Homo sapiens: one gene and its partner. The protein of the gene in region 1 interacts with the protein of each later gene in a pairwise test. Each region holds a gene or a part of one and is shown on either strand. Other genes may lie near its edges.

Region 1 (3,500 bases):
AGAGTCTCACTCTTGCCCACGCTGGAGTGCAGTGGGGTGATCTCAGCTCACTGCAACCTCCACCTTCCAGGTTCAAGTAATTTTCCCTGCCCCACCCTCCGGAGTAGCTGGGATTATAGGCACCCGCCATCACGCTAGACTAAGTTTTTGTATTTTTAGTAGAGACAGGGTTTCACCATGTTGGCCAGGCTGGTCTCAAACTCTGGACCTTAGGTGATCCGCCTGCCTTGGCCTCCCAAAATGCTGGGATTATAGGTGCGAGCCACTGTGCCTGGCCCTCAGAAGATCATTGTTAACTGTAAATTTGTTATCGTCTCCTCCTCTCAATATAACAGGTATTTGATGCTGTATTTTGATAAGCCTTTTCTATATTCATCCAAACTTCGAGAAGTAGAATTGAGGGAAGGAAGTATCAAACAAAACAAGCTGGGTGAGGTGGCTCATGCCTGTAATCCCAGGACTTTGGGAGACTAAGGCTGGAGGATTGCTTGAAGTCAGGAGTTGGACAAGCCTGGGAAACAAAGGAGACCCTGTCTCTACAAAAAAAAATAAAAATAAAGGCTGGGCGTGGTGGCTCACACCTGTAATCCCAGCACTTTGGCAGGCCGAGGCAGGAGAATTGCTTGAGCTCAGGAGTTTGAGACCAGCCTGGGCAACATGGCGAAACCCTATCTCTGCAAAAAAAGTAGAGTAGTCCCAGTTGCTTGGGAGACTGGGGTGGGAGGATCACTTGAGCCCTGGTGGTTGAGGCTGCATGAGCCGTGATTGCACCACTGCACTTAAGCCTGGGTGACAGAGTGAAACCTTGTCTCAAAAATAAATACATAAATAAAAAAAGTTAGCTAGGTGTGGTGGCACATGCCTGTAGTCCCAGCTGCTCAGGAGGCAGGAGGCTGTGGCAGGAGTGTTGCTTGAGCCCAGGAGTTTGAGGTGCAGTGCCTGTGATTGTGCCATGCACTCCAGCCTGGTAGACCTGGTCTCAAAAAAAAAAAAAAAAAAAAAAAAAAAACAACTCCCACAGGGAGAGCCTTCAGAATGGGGACTAGTGGTCACAAAAATGCATTGCCTTGGACTGTAGGTAGCAGGTAATCAGTCTATTGTAAATTAGTTAGCTCCACAAATGGTGTTACTAGATTGACTGCTCTTAAGATCCTTTTTAGCTTAGAAACTTCTGGTTTTTAAATAATTTGTTCTCTGTTAGTTGCTACTGTATAGATTTTAAAACGTGTTTTTGAGTTAAAATTTATTATTTCAGGGCCATCATTATTTAATCGAACCATTTATATACAAGTCCACAATTCTTCACACTCAGGAAAATACAGACTATACCTAGCCTCAAGTCAGTTTAGTCATTTTGCCACCAAATAAGTACAGGGCAGGTCAAGTTTAGTTGCCAAATAAGGTACAAAAAGATCTCTAGGTAGGGCTGGTCTGTTTTGAAAAAAAAAAAAAATTAAAAATCAGAAAAATAAAATTAAAAAAATTAAAAATTAGAAACAAAAAGTTGAAAGCCCCTCCAGTATTCAGAGCATTTTGGATTTCAGGATTACTAATAGAGGGTTGTAGATCAGTGTGTATATGTGTATGTGTATCTGTGTGTGGGGGTATGGTGTATGTATAACGTATCACTTCCTTTGTGCACTAAGTATGGAAACAAATATCCAAGAATTAACTTGCATAAGGAAGCAAAATAGGTTCACATAGAATCTACTCGTAATGAATGGTAATTTTTCCGTGACCTCTCTGCTCCCTTTTGCTTTCCTGCTTTTCTGTTGCCATTTTGAATCAATGAGTTATTTTCTGTGAAAAGGAGAATTGAAAACTGGGTCTAGCTCAAGTTATGTTCAGCCTCAGTGGTGACCAGTGTCTTATACTGGCCTTATTTCAAGAAATTAGTTATCATTTTTGTATTTGATTAGTTCACTCATTAAACAGATATATTTGAGTGTGTTCTTGGCCAAAGGCAACAAACAGATGAGTTAGAAAGAGGCCTGGCCTGAGAGTGGGGACCGTCTGGCCTGCTCCTAGGTGCAGCACAAATTGTGATCCTCAGTGGTTCCCAAACTGAGTTACTCCCAGCTGCCTTGTGGGTTGGGAGTAGCCCCTCTTATCTATTTCGTGTGGACTTGTTTTCTGGGAAAGGTTTCATTGTTTAAAAAATGTTTACAAACTATGAGACTATATTTCTAAGAGCCTCATTTTAGCTTTAATGTTTTGTGAATATACATTTATTGGATACTTCACATGAGAAGCATGACTTGTAATGGATTTTATACTAGAGATGCCAATGGCCACACAGAGCCTTTTTAAAGGGTCTCTTTGTTTTGGGGGGTTTGTGAGAGGTACATAGTCCAGCTAACTATCAAAGTAGGGACCTTGTCTTATTCTCTGCTGTATTCTTAGCCACTAGAAAGTGATTGGTACCCAGTAGATGCTGAATAAATACTTGATGGATGCATGAATGAATGGATTGATTAATTGGGTTGATCTTAACTGACATCCTTTCAAATTTATTTCAAGTAAAGGTAAATTTTTTGCTCTGATGTAGCGTTTATAGTTCCCTTTTATTTCTCAAATGTGATTGATCTGATATAACTTGAACATTTTCATGCTCTGAGAGTCATTCCTGCTCTGGTAACTTTCTCTAAAAATCTGAGACCTGTTGTTAGACTGTACAGTGGAAGATGCTGTCGTCAGAATATACAGTGGAAAATGCTGTCAGAGATACAAATAATTATAGCTCATGCCTTTGGCTATTGTTTAGTTGAGATGAGGCCAAGATGTATGTATGAGGACTGAATAACAACACAGGGGAATAAGCAATTGAATGCCTGAGTTAGTACACAACAATTGCTTAGAAAGTCAGAAGACAGAAGAATGTTGTGGGTTGAAACATCCTCGAGGCAGTTCTGACACCTTTTCAAGGAGGCATGAGCTTTAGGGAGGCTTCATGGACAAGTAGGAGTTTAAACAGAAGAGAGACAAGGAAAGATTATTTTAGGAAGTGGTGGGAGTAATTTTAGCATAAAGTTGGTAATGTCAGAGAAGTTTGTGATCGCTTTTTCTTTTTGAATTACTAGTGGTTTAACATTGCAGCTAGAATTAGTTAACAGCACTAGGTTGCAAGTGACAGACTCCCAACTCAGACCTAGCTTATTAACTAGTTTATTATTAACCAGTTTGTTAACTGGGATAATTGAAAAATATAGGATGAGGCCAGGTGTGGTGGCTCATGTGTGTAATCCCAGCACTTTGGGAGGCCAAGGCGAGTTCGAAAGCAGCCTGGCCAACATGGTGAAACCCTGTCTCTACAAAAAATACAAAAATTAACTGGGCGTGGTGGTGCATGCCTGTAGTCCCAGCTACTTGGTAGGCTGAGGCAGGAGAATCGCTTGAACCCTGGAGGCAGATGTTGCAGTGAGCCAAGATTGTGCCACTGCACTCCAGCTTGGGCGACAGAGTGAGGCTCTGTCTCAAACAAAACAAAACAAAAAGGTTAA
Region 2 (3,500 bases), on another chromosome or scaffold:
ATATGTTTTGAGGAGAGAGTGCTTCCAGATTTGTACTTTGAACATAACTTTGAAACACACATAGGATGCTGCATAGCAGTATCCCACACTGCACTGATATTAAAATGAAAATCCCTTGTAATACACGTTACCGAAAAAGTGGCTTAGTTAAACACCCTCACTGGTAAAGGGCAAAGGACCTGGGAACACGTCTGCACAGTTTCATATTTGAAATAACTCCCTGTCCTCACATTGCAGAGCAAGGGCAAGTAAGGGCTCTTGGCCAGAAGCTGAGAACAGCCTCATCACAGAACGACACGGGGCTGGACATTATAATCATGGTGTCTGTTCACAATGGAGCTCATCTGGCCTGGCTTCTCCAGCCTTCATTATGTTTTTGCTACATTAGAGTGAAACTCTTACACTGGGCTTCAGCTCCCGTTTCTAATTTGGGATGGCATGTGTCCTCTGCCTCACAATGCTTCACCAGTATCCTAAGCCCTCAATTTCCACTTCCAGTCAGTCAAGTAATTCTCATTCCCAGAGCAAATCTGATAGATCTTTTCATAGAAAGCCACAATTGGTGGCTTTGCTGGACCCACTGAAAATTTAAGAGACTAGAGTTAAAAAATTAATTTTCCTTGCATACCAACAGCTAGGATTTAGGGGACAGGTTGGCTTTCACCTGATTTCTGACCGAGATAGGAACATTCTTATTGCTCTTCCCTGAGGCTCTGCAGTCTCGCTGAAGGAATGTCAGAGAACCAGGCAGTGGAGGGACCTGGGTTAAAGAGGGAAGAGTCACTCCCTTTTGAGGTTTGTTCTCCAGCTGGCATCTCTCCCATTGGCTGCAGAGCAGCAGGGGACACGCGTAGGTGGACAGCTGGGCCTGGACCTACCTCGCAGCCTCTTTAGCCTCTGCTCCCGCCGCCTCCTCCGCACAACCAGCAGGAGCACAAACAGCAGCAAGACCCCCACCAGGATACAGGAGATGGTCACCAGCATCTTGAGCCCCTCGTTGGTCGTCAGCCCTTCTTCGTTTTGGACAACTGACTTAATGAGTGGAGGAATTGTACCTGAAAGCAGGGCCACGGTGTTAGATGGCTATTAATGAAGACGGCATGGCGGAGCTTTTAGGGATGACAGGTTATAAAAATCGCGCTGTGTGATCCAAGGGTGTTGGAGGTGATGAGAAATGAAAAGAACTCTGTCTCTAGGCCCTGGCTAACTTTTTTTCTTATTTATTTCCCTCCCTCTGCCTGAACTTCCAACTTATTCTATAGTGCACGTTTGAAAAGGACTTCATTTTGCAATGCACTACAGTGTGCAGGCACTTGAAAGCATGAGGCCCAGGCTTGGTGCTGACAAAAGCCACATGCATCTACCCAGAATTAAGTGTTCCCTTGACTGTCACCCACAGTACAATTGATAGAGACTATTCGAAAAAATTGCACATCAAAGAATGAACAAAAGGTTGGGCAAATGGACAGAAGCGCGTGTGCAGGGAGAGGGTCCTAGATACACTGGCATAAAGAAACTCAAATCCCTTGTGATTAGGTAATTTGCTGGCTTTTATCGCAGGTGTAAGACCAAATCTACTTCAACAGCTGTGGTTTGAGGGTACAAGAGCTACAGACAGCTTTTCAAAGGGGACCCAACTAGGTTTCTAAAGGAGCCTACTTTTGATCAGGCATGGTTAAATAGTGCTACAAAATCTAGATTATTTCGAGTAATAAGGAAACACTGAAGGAAGATGAACTCTGAGCTATCTTAAGCTGCCTTCTATCCAGATGCTCAGTACCGTGGGTGCAGAGATCTAAACACAGGCATCCACTTTTTATGAGGTATATATTTTGCTACCCTCCATTATATAAGATGCTCCACGCCACTGCACTTTCCATGTACAACAAGGGCCAGAAAGTCAGCACTTCAGGAAAAGAGAATGCAAAAATAATATAATTTCTCCCTCAGCAAAACGGTCTTTATCCTGCATTTAGTAAGCAGAGCAGGGATAATGGAATCCTCGTTCCTCTGTGATCTCTGCTAAAGCTGAGAAGAGTGTTCTCCCAACTTTAAAGTGTTTTTGTGGAAGCCCAAGTCTCCAAATGCTTAGAAATTCAGGAAAGAGGCACTTACAGGATGCCCATGAAGAGGGGTCTGCAAAACCAAGACAACACTAGGTCAAGCAGAAACATTCGGCTAAGGAAATGGCAGAAGAAAGAGTGAGATCATTAAATGGAGGACTCTGAAACCTGAGTGGTATGAATGTAGGCTGCCAATCTTGGCTTTCTCAAGATAACAAAGTTCTTCAGGCAGATGTGACAATAGAGGCTATCCATTCATGAGACTGGTCCAAAGAAATCTGTAATCTCTCTCAAGGAAAATATAAATATGCAGCCATATTTCTTAGTGTAATAAAGTGATTTCATATTTCCAAAACGTAAAGGTAGCTTGCAGCATTTTTCAAAATTTGGGATCTTGGATAAAGTGAGAAAATTATATCTTTTCTTAGAAGACAAACATTTAAAATCCGCAGAACACTTTGTGAATTAGAATCACAGTTTCAAATTCTACACATGAGTAGTTTCTAATTAAATCATTAGCTGTGAGCATATCATCAGTGTGCACATTTAAGCTGGGTGCCCAGGCATCTGCACATATTATAGAGAAGCTGGGAACCAGAGTGTGAATATTGCAAGATAATGATCTAAAGTAAAAAAGATACTTACTACTCAAATGTGTGCTGGTTAACAGAGGATTTTGGTGCACCCTTAAATGCTAAGTAAAGTGTCTGGTAAGTGTCAAAGTTCTTTATTTTGTAAGATCAAATAATTCAACCATATTACAGGGAGAGGCCAGCTTGGAAGTGCTCCTCTGCCTCTGGGTGATGCTTTGTGATGGGGACACCTTTGAATGAAGTCACTGAAGAGTGAGGGCTATAAAATTAGAAAGAGGCAGCCCATGAAAAGCATCAGCCCTTGAAGAGAAAAGTTGTCGTCTGGGAGGGCATAGGCTATTCTGGGGCCATAGGACAGAGCCCGTGCAGAGGCCAGGGACCCCGGCTAGCGTAACCAACACTAGAAGAGCTTTCTACAAGCTCAAGGTCTTCCTACAGCCCTGAGACCCAGGCCAGAAGTGCCAGGAAGACCCTGGACTCTGGCAGAGAAGGATGTTGTGGAAAAATGACCTTGGACAGGAGATTTGGGGTAGGTCTGCTCTGTGTGCCAAAGCAAGAAGAGCCAGCCCTGGGCCATCCGGACATTATAGGAGAAATTGGTCCGATGAAAATCCCAGGCAATGTCACCTCATTAGCTCCTGGTGGTCATTTCTGTGGGTCCTTAGGTTCACAGCCACTCTTCTTAGGATGGCATAAACTGTGCTCCAAGGAGCTACCTGCTGGAGCTTTAATAAAGCGGCCTCCCAAATGCACAAAGTAAAGAAAGAATCACTCTCCTAGAGAGCAATGCTGATGCTTTTCATGGGCTGCCTCTGTCTAATTTTACAGCCCTCAGTTATGAGTG

The links. The genes of interacting proteins can lie anywhere in the genome.
Region 2: the proteins of GNPTAB (region 1) and DSCAM interact in a two-hybrid assay, tested with the Homo sapiens proteins (one large-scale study listed by BioGRID and IntAct).

The regions. Positions count from the first base shown.
Region 1 is NC_000012.12:101,824,460-101,827,959, reverse strand, and holds part of GNPTAB (N-acetylglucosamine-1-phosphotransferase subunits alpha/beta precursor), read left to right. Parts: intron 1-3,500. UniProt on the Homo sapiens protein: Catalyzes the formation of mannose 6-phosphate (M6P) markers on high mannose type oligosaccharides in the Golgi apparatus.
Region 2 is NC_000021.9:40,074,159-40,077,658, forward strand, and holds part of DSCAM (cell adhesion molecule DSCAM isoform CHD2-42 precursor), read right to left. Parts: intron 1,056-3,500; coding exon 879-1,055; intron 1-878. UniProt on the Homo sapiens protein: Cell adhesion molecule that plays a role in neuronal self-avoidance. Promotes repulsion between specific neuronal processes of either the same cell or the same subtype of cells.